Regions from separate parts of the Homo sapiens genome. Here all the other regions are reported to be linked to region 2. The links are microRNA targets in miRTarBase. Many come from high-throughput screens and were not tested one by one. Region 2 holds a microRNA gene; each other region holds the end of a gene's coding sequence.
What was found. The annotated mature microRNA hsa-miR-4292 reads CCCCUGGGCCGGCCUUGG and lies in region 2 at 2,301-2,318, opposite strand. An mRNA with a match to its seed (bases 2 to 7 or 8) in the 3' UTR can be bound and repressed. Matches are read on the target gene's strand: a 7mer-m8 pairs with bases 2 to 8, a 7mer-A1 pairs with bases 2 to 7 and ends in A, and an 8mer does both.

Region 1 (4,193 bases), not on the chromosome of region 2:
TGGACTTCTGTGGCATTGATCTCCTTATCATGGACGATGGCTCCTTTGTGGTGTGTGAGGCAAATGCTAATGTTGGCTTCCTAGCCTTTGACCAGGCATGCAACTTAGATGTGGGTGGGATCATTGCAGACTATACCATGTCCTTGCTGCCAAATAGGCAGACTGGAAAGATGGCTGTCCTCCCAGGACTGTCGAGTCCAAGGGAGAAGAACGAGCCGGATGGCTGTGCTTCAGCTCAGGGAGTTGCAGAGAGCGTCTATACCATCAACAGTGGGTCTACCTCTAGTGAAAGTGAGCCTGAACTGGGAGAGATCCGGGATTCCTCAGCAAGCACAATGGGGGCCCCACCCTCCATGCTGCCCGAACCTGGCTACAACATTAACAACAGGATTGCTTCTGAGTTAAAACTTAAGTGAATTCCTGCTTTTTGGCAGCATTTAAACCAAATCCTACTGCTTCCCTAGTAGTTTTGAGTGAATAAAATCTGGACTAATGTGATTTCATTTGCACAGAAACTAGAAATCCCATCTGGGCACTCAGCATTTTTTCTAACGATGATTTAAGCAAATGGCCTAGCTTTGTGGTTTTTACAAAGACAAATATAAAAACACTCAAGAACAACGTCCCGACTGATCAGTATGAGACTGATGTCTGCTGTGAGCACGTGGATATTACGGCTGACGCTAAGGCACTGACTCTGCTGTTGCTTCTGACTTTTAGCAGTAGAACCCATTAGCTCAAAATGGCTCTTGGAATTATGTACTCAAAAGCAACCACGGGATGGAAGCATGTGCAGACGAGGTGGAATGTGACTGCAGTAATAGGTTCTTCACTAAGTGTGTGTGTGATGCTTGGAAAAGACACAGTTCAAACACTATTAGAGGATCGATCTCTGCTCCCCATCAATCACCATCTTGACCATATTTCTCCGACACTCAGGATATGGTGTTTTAGGGAGCTTCCTCATTAGCATTTTCAGTGAAGCACTTTGTAGAAAGTGAGATTGAACGTTCTTTGACTTCACAGGTTGGCAAATGTCCTGCTTTGTAACTGGGCCTTTCTACAAATTGCTTTGCCACTCTGAATTTATAGACCCTGCTTCAACTAACGTCAGCTCTAGCAGCTTCTTGCACCTTTGCTGCCTTTGGCCTCAGCTGGAAATGCACTTCAATGAGCTAGTGGCCACTCAGTTTATTTCTTAAGCGTGCACTAGAATCTAACACCATGGACTTTGTTTTTCAATGGACTCTGTTCACTTGTCATCCAGAAGCCAGTGGGTTTTTACCATAGAAAGCTACTTGGAGATCATCATTCTTCCCCTCCTCTACTGAAACTTTGTGTACTGCTTAGCTGTAGGGGGTTTTCTTGTATGAGTGGGTGTTGGAGGTCTATTGAGTAGATGGGAGCCATTGGAAACACTCCAATCCCCTTGAAACTCTACTTTTATCTAAGATCCAGACACCTGTCCTTACCCACTTTTCCAAACGGGGAAGACTCAGGTATCAGGAATTACCCATTGCACATTTTGCGGGGGGGGGGGCTAATGTAGACATGACACCAAGTGCTTTTCATTTTAATTCTCTAAGCAGTAGATGAGATCTTTCCCTTGGGAGAAATCACAGAGATGGAGTTTTCCATTTCTGCTTATACGAAATATGACTGAAAATGAACAAAGCCACCTTTTTAACCAAATACACTAGAACATATGCACTCAAGAGTTAGCATAATTGGAGTTATTTTCTTGATGTTGCATGTGCCAAGAACACTTAGGGTTCCCCTTTGGGATTACCTTTGAAGCCATGCAAGGCAAGAGGCCTCACAACTTTATAGTCAGACCTTGTGTTTTATCCAACCCCTCCTCCTGCCCACCAAGATCATCCTGAGCTGCTTCACCCATTTTATTTAGCAGACTTATTTTCTAATGCTCTTTAGCTGTTAAAAAAAAAAAATCATTCCTCAAAAAATAGATCTACCCTTAAAGGACAAAGATTTACCAACACTGAAGACCCTTACAAGTTGACAGTTTCTAAAGAGGGTTCTAGGAATGTTCTGTGTAAGGTCAGCTTCACTGGAATAAACATACATCTTCCCAAGGTGACTACTTCAAAGGCAACACTACCCATTCGGGTGCAGAAATTACCGTACTTACTCTGCCATAAATGTAAAATGTGTATAAAGTTAAGCTATTGCATTTTTTCATAACACATTTAAATAGAAATTGGCTTTTAAAGTATTGTAGTTAAAACCAGATCTCACCAAGTAATAGTTGTGCAATTGACAAATGTTTGGTGCCATGTAATGGAGATGTCACACTACACAGTTGTAGTTTAAATGCAGTCCAACATAAGGTGCATGCCACTGAACTGTAACCCTAGTAATGTGTCTTGTACAGTTGAAAAATAATACTTCACCTTTATATAGGTTAAGATATGTACCTTATCTTTACCACTCAGGGTGGCTTTAAAAGACGGACAGCTTTAGGTTTGTTCTCACTGGAACTGGTTACACTTTCTGTGCAAACTTAACCAAGTGATGATCGTCTGGAAGCTGCATTCCCTCATTTCCACTGTTTGGTGTGAATCTAGTCTCCCCACTTTATCTAAAAGGAGGCTAGCAGGGCCCCAGCCTGAGCAGAGCAGCTAGAGAGTGCTTCCAGATTCCTTTGCCAAAGGAGGCCCATTTTCCAGCTGTGAGTGACATCTGTAGTCATTGGCTTCATTGCCTGGCACTAGCCCTGTCTAGAAGTGGAGAAAGCTGGATCACAGCTGGACCACAACCAGCCCCAATCCAGGATTTCCCATACCATGCTGGCTGTGGGCTCTGTGAGCCTCAGCCAGGTGGCCAGGCTATACTTGTCACAGCTGGCCACAGGCCTGCTGAAGGAACATGGGGTGTAGAGCCAGAGCCTGGTTCTGGTTCTCCGCTTGAACAGCTGACCTCGTGCAATCACAGGAACTCTGCGTCTCCATGTTTCACTCAGATAGAGAAAATGCCTCCTTTGTTTACCTCTTTGAAGCTGAAGTAAGTGAGACTGGTGCATGTAAATTAATGGTAGTAGAGCACCTCCCACATCTGATTTTATAACAGTTTCCCATCACTCCTTAAAGAAAAAGGCCAGGCCGGGCGTGGTGGTTCACGCCTGTAATCTCAGCACTTCGGGAGGCCGAGGCGGGTGGATCATGAGGTCAGGAGATTGAGACCATTCTGGCTAACACAGTGAACAAAAAATTAGTCGGGCATGGTGGCGGGCGCCTGTAGTCCCAGCTACTTGGGAGGCTGAGGCAGGAGAATTGCTTGAACCTTGGAGGTGGAGGCTGCAGTGAGCCAAGATTATGCCACTGCACTCCAGCCTGGGTGACAGAGCGAGACTCCGTCTCAAAAAAAAAAAAAAAAAGCCACACATTCTTGGCATTAGCACACCAAACAGTGGTAGGGTACCCTGAGAAAGGAATGCAGCTTCTCAGAGGCCTCACTTCCAGCCAGGGAAACTTAAGACCTGAAAGGAATAAGGCTCTTTGTGTATTCAGACAGCCTTCTGGATGTATCGTATATAACCTGAAACTCTCCACTCTTGTATACCAACTAACAAAGTCTTCCTTATGTAACATAGATTGCAGTGTCTGTATATGGTCTTCCCATTATCTGGTAGTAGCATCTTGAAACTGGTCAAAACTTGAATGCCAATAGCTCAGTCACTCAGAATATACGATTCTGCACTTGGGAAAAATGTCTTCATGCTGTTTTTCTGATCGGGTATGGGGTTGCCAGAATGAGGATTTGGGGCTTTAGGTCTTTCGGATCTCAGAAACAATATAAGTAGATCATAAGCCACTAGTGTCACAATTTCAGGCCCATTGCTTCCAGCTAAAAGGAGATTCCATGACCATGGGGACCAGGAGAGGAGGAAAGGGAAAAGGGAAAGGTCTGGAATAGTTTTGTGAAAGAAATAAAAAATTGGGATGATTTGGAATTCTAGTAGGAAGGAGGAAAAAATGGCTCTTCTGTGGGCTGTTTTAATGAAAGAATCATGAATATGTATTGATCAGAGGTAGATGTCTTTGAAGCTGTTCTGCATAAAGATAATGAGATGCATGGATTTCCATCCACCCTGGAGAAGTGGGGGAGATGTGCTTCCTCCCTTCTTTAAATCCTGAGGAATGCTGGTCTTGAGAACACTGAATGCAAATCTGAGG
Region 2 (4,193 bases):
AGCTGGGGCAGCCCAGGGCGAGGAGGTTCAGGTCCCCCAGACCCAGCTGGGGCAGCCCAGGGCGAGGAGGTTCAGGTCCCCCAGACCCAGCTGGGGCAGCCCAGGGCGAGGAGGTTCAGGTCCCCAGACCCAGGTGGGGCAGCCCAGGGCGAGGAGGTTCAGGTCCCCAGACCCAGGCGGGGCAGCCCAGGGCGAGGAGGTTCAGGTCCCCAGACCCAGGCGGGGCAGCCCAGGGCGAGGAGGTTCAGGTCCCCAGACCCAGCTGGGGCAGCCCAGGGCGAGGAGGTTCAGGTCCCCCAGACCCAGTCAGGGCAGCCCAGGGCGAGGAGGTTCAGGTCCCCCAGACCCAATCAGGGCAGCCCAGGGCGAGGAGGTTCAAGCCTCATCATTTGCTGGGCTACTTTGCAGCCACAGCTGGCCTGGCCCTTGTTTCTACAAAGGAAAGTGAGTTTAGTCCGTAGGCCAAAGTTGGTTCCTTGGTTTTGACACAAGCACCAGGGAAATGTGAGATGTGAACAGCGAGTACCTCGGTGACTCACGCCTGGCATCCCAGCACTTTGGGAGACAGGTGGGAGGATTGCCTGAGCCCCGGAGTTTGAGGCCGCAGTGAGCCATGATTGCGCCACTGCACTCCAGCCTGGGCCACACAGCAAGACCTTATCTCAACAAACAAAAACAACCAAAAACACTGGGGGAAACTGAGCAAGGGGTCCCCGCAGAGGTGGAGGGGCTCCTGGGACTGGGTCTAGCCCTCAGGACCCTGTACCCTCTGCCACCCAGAGCAGGCAGGTGCAGTAGAACGCTGGGCCCTTGCCAGCAGCCAATCTCCGAGCAGGTCCACAGCTTTCTCAGGGGTTAGGAGGGAGACCCGTTGCTACACAGGAGACACCTGGAAGGAGGTGAGAGACCAGCAGCCACTCCACCCCACGTGGTGAGTGCTTACCTGAAGCTGCAAAAATGGGATATTGAAGAACTTATGAAGGTACTTTAGGCCGAAGCTGTTCTTCATGGAAGACTCAGCATAGCGGAAGTAGGAGGAACCTGGAGGTCTGCTTTCAGAAAGGAAAAAAGATGCAAGAGAAAGACCCTTGCCCTGGTGCCAAGGATCACCCCTGGGCCCACAGCTGTGGGTCCGCACTGCCCTCCCTCCTCCTGCAGGCTCCTGAGGCCACAGGACCCTGCTGAGCCCTGCTAAGCAGCTAAGCCGAGTGCCCTTCTGCAGGTGACCCCACAGTGCCAGCACTTCACCCTGGCACACAGTTCCCCAGCACACAGTTCCCGGCCCTGCCATCGGGGAGACCCAGGCTTCAGTGAGCCCCACTCAGCGGCGAGACCCACATCCGCCGGGCCCCATGCTAACGTTAACCCCTCCCTGGGCCTCTGCCTCAGCACCCTCCCCCGCACACCGGAGCACCGGGCAGGGTCCCTCGGGAGCAGGGCCACCGCACCCACCTGTCCAGGTTGTCGATGAAGTCACGCACGTCGTCCGGCAGGATGACTCGGTGCTCGCCCATGTCCCGGTAGTTTCCCAGCACGCACACTGGCACGTGGGTGGGCACTTTTGGAAGCTCCCGGAGAATGTAATTGAAGGTCCTCGGAGAACAGGTGAGGACCTGGCTTAGTTTCAGCCCTGCGACGCCCTGTCCCTCCCTGGAAAGGTGCTGTGCGCCCAGGCCCGAGGATGGTGGCTGCTTCTCATTTCCAACATCCAACCCAGCAGAAGCATGCCTCGTGCATGCAGAGCTAGAGGGAAGTGCCTCGAGGGCCTTCGCACCCCTCAGCCTGCAGCCCCCGCCCGTCCCTCTCCCTGACGGCAGGTACTTGACCGCACCCCACACTGGAACGCCCCTGCCTGTCCCTGCCTTCCCTCAGAGCACCCCATGTCCGCATCCCTACAAAACCACCTCTGGCTTCATCTGTGTCCACCCTCATTCCGCACTGTCCTCTGTGCCCCTTGGTGTCGACCCTGTGGCTGGTCCTCCAGGCTCCCTGCCCACCGGGGCAGCCGAGGACACCCTGGGGTGCCTCTGCGGCTGCCGGTGAAGCGGGCTGTTTGGAGAGCCTTGTCTTAAGCAGACATCTCCTGGCACGGACGGCAAGTCTCCAGAGTCTGCCTGGCGTGGAACTGCCAGTTTCCCAGCTGCGTGGTTTTCCAAATGGCTTGTGAAGAAATAACCAGCGCTTCAAGTGACAAAACTTCCCCACGACTGAAAGCCAACATAAGGGAGTAAAAAATGCAACATCCTGTTTCTAACTTCATTTTCTTTCATTTACACGCAGTCATTTAAACGGGCCCCTCACCAAGGCCGGCCCAGGGGCACCTCTGGCCTCCTAAGCAGGTGGCCTTCTGGTGTCTCCTGCCTCTCGTGGCTGTGAAGGGCCTGCGTGGTGCTTGAAGCCGCTGTCTGAGCCAGTGTTTTCCATCCTTCCTGCTGGGCACCAGGGGCTCCAGACAGAGCATTGCTACCATAGGCATCGCCTGCCCAGGCTGGTGCTGCCAACAGGGTCTCCGGGCCCACAGGTAAGCGCCTTTGCCGCGTCTTCTCAGGCTGGCTCAAGTCTCGCTGTCACTCCCGCCCACTCCTCGCACGGCAGCCCAGGCGGCTGCAGCTCCCTCCAGGCCGTTCCTGTGGCAGCAGTGGGAGGTGCCGTGGAGGCCACACTGTGTCCACACTCAACTTCGCTTGGGAAAAGCCACTTCCCACCCACCAGGCTGGCCTGCTGCCTAGACAGGAGAGGCCGGAGGGAGAGGAGCACCACTGCTCGCCCAGGTGAGGCCAGCGTGTGCGCCCGAGCTGAACTCGTGCCCTGGGGTGGGGCCGCCAGCCCCGTGTGTGGTTCTCCTGCCATCCGTGTGCCACACCCCCACCGAGGGCTCTCCTGAGGGTGCCTGCGGTCAGTCCTTGGTGGTGGTGCTGAAGGCTGGGAGGGCAGGCATGGTTCCCAGCATTGGCAAAGGTTGGCAGAGGCCCAGAGCATGGCTGGTCAGGTGCTTCAAGCCGCCCTCAGGCCTGGGCTGCTGATGCGTGCTGAGTGTGCGGCCCCGTGACAGGCGGTACGCTTAACCCTGGTGTGGGGGTCTTCCCAAGTAAGAGAAGCTGCTGACTAGGCCCCCAGGCCAGACCCACTGCTGGGAAGAGCAGATGCCTGGACGTGTCGGGCATGCTGCTCCTGGTGCTCCGGGCACTGGCTGTGGCTAGGAGGGGCCCTGCACCAGGACACTGGTCTTCACGCGGCCCTCGTTCTTCTAGGAGCCTTGTGCCAAGTGTGCGTCCGCAGCACCCCCCCGCTGGGGCTCCGGTGCGTCCTGGGGGACACTGCACTCCTGAGGAGCTGAGTGGATCCCATGCGACTCCACAGTGGACTCTGGGGGCTTGCGCCTGGTCCCCCAGAGATCGTCCTGTGTGCCACTGCCCTTAGCTGATTTCGCTGTCATCTTCTTGCTAGAATGAATCTTGGCTGTGGGTCCTCCTAGGTCATGAAGACGGAGGTCGCGGGGAGCCCCCAGCACAAGCAGCCACTTGCTTCCGCCAAGTCTCAGATGGGTTTTCAGGAAGAACAGTGGGGCTATGGAAGGTGCGTGCCTTGCCCCAGATGCCTTTTGCAGCCGGCCCACGCCATCCCGCCCCATAGGCACAGGCATAGTCGTTGCCCAGCCCGACATCCAGGCCAGTGCCCCTTGTGGCTGAGCTGCCACAGCTGCCCAGCAAGAGTCCCTCGGTCCTGCAGAACGATGCTGCTCTAACCATTATCTGCTGCACAAAGAGGGCGCCCAAGGGGCTAGGGGGGTGAGAGTCACAGGCAGCTGCCCCCGCCAGCTCCCTCTTACCACTGCTTGGTAATGTCGAACATCATGACCACCCCGTTGCAGTTCTTGTACACGTCCAGGAACTCAGCATCCAGGGCCATTTCAGACTCCGCCTGGGGACAGGAGGGAACAGGTGTGAGACTGGCCCAGGCTGGGCCCCACCCGTGTGGCCCACAGTTTTAGAAAAGGCTGGATAGTCTTCTAATCTGAAAAGATAACAGCCATTTCCATTTGGAAACGATATGCTGAAGAGATGGGATAGCTAAACATAGGTTTGCCCCAAAGGGTCTGACGGTCAACACCAGCCTCGCTGATGGCTCCCTGAACAAGCCTCCTACCCAGGACCTCCCACTGATCACAGCAGTGTCCGCCCCAGGCCTCACGG
Region 3 (4,193 bases), not on the chromosome of region 2:
GACAAGGTCAGGCCTTGAAGAATGAAGAGCTGAACTGGCAGAGAGAGGGGTGTGGCACTCCAGGTGAAGGGAGGCAGCACAAGGCAGAACACTCTGGGGGGCTGGCATGGGGAAGGGACAGGAAAGCCAAATCCAACATTGATTCTGCCAAAATCTTTAGTAGTTAGCACCAAGTAGTCAGGCTTCTACTTTTTTTCCTTTCAGCTAATCTGAATTCATTAATATTTATATAATTATAGTACTTATAGAACTAAAATTATTTGAAAACTCAGGTTATTGGACAAATAGGTTCAGTATAATCCCAAATATAAACAGCTTACTTCAGGATAAAATAATTTCTGTTCTTTTGGCCGGGCACAGTGGCTCACACCTGTAATCCCAGCATTTTGGGAGGCCGAGGCGGGTGGATCACGACGTCAGGAGATCGAGACCATCCTGGAGATCGAGACCATCCTGGAGATCGAGACCATCCTGGCTAACACAGTGAAACCCCGTCTCTACTAAAAATATAAAAAATAACCCAGGCGTGGTGGCAGGCACTTGTAGTCCCAGCTACTGAGGAGGCTGAGGCAGGAGAATGGTGTGAGCCCAGGAGGCAGAGCTTGCAGTGAGCGGAGATCGCGCCACTGCACTCTAGCCTGGGTAACAGAGTGAGACTCCGTATCAAAAAAAAAAAAAAATTCAGTTTTTCACTTCATTCTTTGCACATTTTAAAATTTGATTAGAATGTTTAGAAATAAGCACATTTCATTCTATAAAAATGACAGGTCAGGCACAGTGGCTCACGCCTGTAATCCCAGCACTTTGGGAGGCAGAGGTGGGTGGATTGCTTGAGCCCAGGAGTTTGAGACCAGCATGAGCAACATGGGAAAAAAAAATAAAAGTTTTGTCTCTACAAAAAAATATAAAAAATTAGCTGGCAGGGTGGCACACACCTGTAGCCCCAGCTACTCGGGAGGCTCAGATGGGACCTGAGCCTGGGAGGTCAAGGCTGCAGTAAGCTGTGATCCTGCCACTGCACTCCACCCTGGGCAACCCTGTCTCAAAAAATAAAAAAGACAGTAAAAATATCCCTATACTGGGGCAGGAACTTTACAAGGTATCCTGTGGCAAAGGGAGCAGAGATGGGGGGAAAGGGGTGCTAAAAGTTTGATTGGAAAGGGACTTTTCCATGGTTACAACACCAACTGACATGGAAGCTGCACCTCTGAGAGGGCCCTGGTCCTAGAGGTCAACCACCTGATGGAGAGCCTTGGTAAACCAAGCCCTCTTTCACCAATCTCAGGAATCAGGTAGCACAGCCAAGCACTCTAACTTCACACATAAGGAAATTGATGCAGAGGTTCATTGACTTGCTCAAGATCAATCCTGCCAAGAAAAGGCACACCATGCCTGGAACCCAGATCTGATGACTCCAAGACCCTTCCTATGACTCTGGCCCCCCTGCCCAGCCACTTCTAGTGCCAGTTTTGGGACAGTGAAGGGACATCTTCAGTGCCATGAACAGCTGCTGCCGTAGGAAGGCAAGAGGATGGCAGAACCAAGATGACCAAACCTTCCTGAGGACAAAGCTGAACAGGCATCAGAACACCAACAGGAGACTTCTGCCCCGCCCCCACCATCCTGTGACACCACCACACAATATCAGAGCCTTCATTTTCACCTGCTCATGGCAATCCAGAGCAGGTAAGATTATTCCATACTCTACTGAAAAAGACATCTTCCAGGTTGGTTTCTTCTCATTTCAAGAAATGACCAGCTCCATGAACGGGCCCCTATAGTCAGGACACTGCTCTACTATTAAAACATTTTATCCTTTCATTCATAATCTGACCTCTTCAATAATCAGAAGCAATGATTACTCACATGCTTTAGCAATATCACTCCTTTGCCTTTAAGTAATTGATTCTTGCTTTTTGCTTCAACACAAGTGGGTGGGCCAGTGAGGGAGCTCCTCCCAGAACAGGCTGCCTTTTCTCCTGAGAGCAGCAGGCACATGCACTTGTTCCTTCGGGTTGAATCTGATTGCTAGCACCAGATCTCATACATGGAGAGGGGTATGTGAAGCTGAGAGGGGCCTGCAGTGTGCAGGGGCTAGAGACATGAACACAACAATGGTAAGCGTTTATATCTGCTGAGGCCGAGGATCCTATAGAAAATTCAGAAACGGAGTGGGGAGGAGTCTGATTTATGGGAACTGGCAGCAAGGCTAACTGCATGAGAAGCCTTTCACCCTTTTACTGAGTCCTTGGATCTGTGGTTAACCCTTATAAAATATAATTCAGATTCAAACCACATCACTCCTCAACTCAAAATTGTCCAAAAGCTCCCTGCCTCCCTCTGAGCCAGCTCAAGCCCCCGTAATGACCCATGATGCTCATATGGCCGGGCCTGTGGCCTCCCTGGCCCCTCTCCTTCCCTTCCAGCTGGCTCCCTGCACTCCATCCCAGGGGCTTCCTTCCTGAGGACACCAGTCAAGACCCAATCTCCTCTGCCTGCAACTCTCCCTAGAGAGCTACCTGCTACCTCCCTGGCTTCCTTCACGTCTTTGCTCACATTTCACCTTCTCAGTTGAGGCCCTCCCTGACCAGACTATCTAAAATCACGACTGATCTCCCAATCCAGCACTCCCTCTGCTCTTCTCTGATTCACTTTGTCCACTACACACATCACCATCCAGAATACTGCGTATCCCATTTGTTTGTCATCTGTAAAGATCCAAGATGGCAGGATTTTCATCTGTTCTGGTCCCTGCTGGGTCTCTGGCAAACACACCAGCGCCTGGTGTATGGGAGTGCTCAGCACATTTCTGTTAAACAGATGGACCGCTGCTGCCTATGCAGGCCTGTGGGATGGGGATGGCAACAGGGTACTGGTAGAGATCCACACGCCAAGCGCTTGAGCCCAGCATCCTGCTCTCCTCCACCTGCCGCTGAGACCACTCTAACCCCCTAGCAGATATCCAAAAGCCAGCCAGGAAGGCTGAAGCCCCAGCCAGAACTCCCCAGGGGGCATTTGGGAAGGCTAGGAGTTCTTGATGCTGCTGCTTTTAAAGTCAACAGAATAGGCATGGCCACAGGCCAAACTTGAAGACAAATCTAGGATCCCACTGGCCCCTTTCCAGCAGCCATAGCCCATGATGCCACAGATATTCTGTCCAACCACAAAGGGCAGTGGTCTCTCTCTTCAGAGTTGTGGAAGGAGACCTGAATAGGGGAGCCGCAGGCTATGGTGCAGAGGCCACTCCTAGGGGCCGGAGTCTCCAGAAGGGCTCCAAAGGACATGGTGCTGCACTTCCCCAGCGTCACATCCTAGCAGGCAGGCTGGGGACTCCCCGAGCTTTCAAATCCTTGGGATTCTGTCACTAGCTTCCAAAACAGAAAGGGCTGGGCCCTTTATCAAAGTTACTCCACAATGCCTATAATTAAGGGTTCTCTAGCAGGGGACTGAGAACCCACCCCCACTGTCACTGTCAGGTCCCAGGCTAATCTCTAATATGGTTTTTCATATGCCGAGCCAGGTTCGAAGACCACCTGAAGGTCTTTCCACACTTGCTGCATTTGAAGGGCCTCTCTCGAGTATGAAATCTCTTGTGGCTAATGAGTTGTGAACTCTTGTTAAAAGTTTTCCCACATATGCTGCATTTGTGGCACTTTTTCCCAATGCTTATGTCCTGGAGTCCAGTGAGCCTGGAGCTCTGGCTGCAAGCTTCTTTGCAGTCTTCGAGGGGCATCTCTTCACTTGGTTTTAGCTTCTGTAATCTCAACTTTGTGTCCTGAGAGGAAGACCGTGCAGGCGGGCTACGTTCAGCCTGTGCTGCTCTGGTGTGTTTCCTCTGGTGACTGGAAAGGGTATGTCTCCCAATGAACTCTTTCCCACACCACTGACATTTGAAAGGTCTCTCTGTAGAGTGGATCCTCTGATGGTTAACAAGGCGATAGTTTCTATCATAAGATTTCCCACATAGATTACATTTATAGCGCTTCTCTCCACTGTGTATTCCCTTATGATCTAAAAGGGTTCTTTTACGTGTAAAGGTTTTCCCACATTCTTGACACCAAAAACGTTTCTCACCAGTGAGGATTTTTGGCTCCACATTTGGAGTCTTTTCACTTTCATGGCAATCATACTGTTTTTGAAGAGAGTGAATCCTCTGATGTCGGTAGAGATTGGAACTCCATCTGAAGGCTTTC

Region 1: miRTarBase lists RIMKLA as a target of hsa-miR-4292. Seed matches in the 3' UTR shown: 7mer-A1 at 3,480-3,486.
Region 3: miRTarBase lists ZNF445 as a target of hsa-miR-4292. Seed matches in the 3' UTR shown: 7mer-A1 at 2,528-2,534, 7mer-A1 at 2,400-2,406 and 7mer-m8 at 1,026-1,032.

What each region holds. Positions count from the first base shown.
Region 1 is chr1:42,414,559-42,418,751 of GRCh38, forward strand. RIMKLA (ribosomal modification protein rimK like family member A) reads left to right here. Exons shown (of 5, transcript NM_173642.4): 5 at 1-4,193. The coding sequence ends at 416. Among named protein-coding and RNA genes, the nearest start is that of RIMKLA, 36 kb to the left of the region's middle.
Region 2 is chr9:136,829,121-136,833,313 of GRCh38, reverse strand. It overlaps MIR4292 (microRNA 4292), which reads right to left and starts at 2,357; the gene lies at 2,291-2,357. It overlaps RABL6 (RAB, member RAS oncogene family like 6), which reads right to left. Exons shown (of 15, transcript NM_024718.5): 5 at 3,830-3,921; 6 at 1,453-1,593; 7 at 944-1,049.
Region 3 is chr3:44,443,091-44,447,283 of GRCh38, forward strand. ZNF445 (zinc finger protein 445) reads right to left here. Exons shown (of 8, transcript NM_181489.6): 8 at 1-4,193. The coding sequence ends at 3,485. Among named protein-coding and RNA genes, the nearest start is that of LINC01988, 17 kb to the left of the region's middle.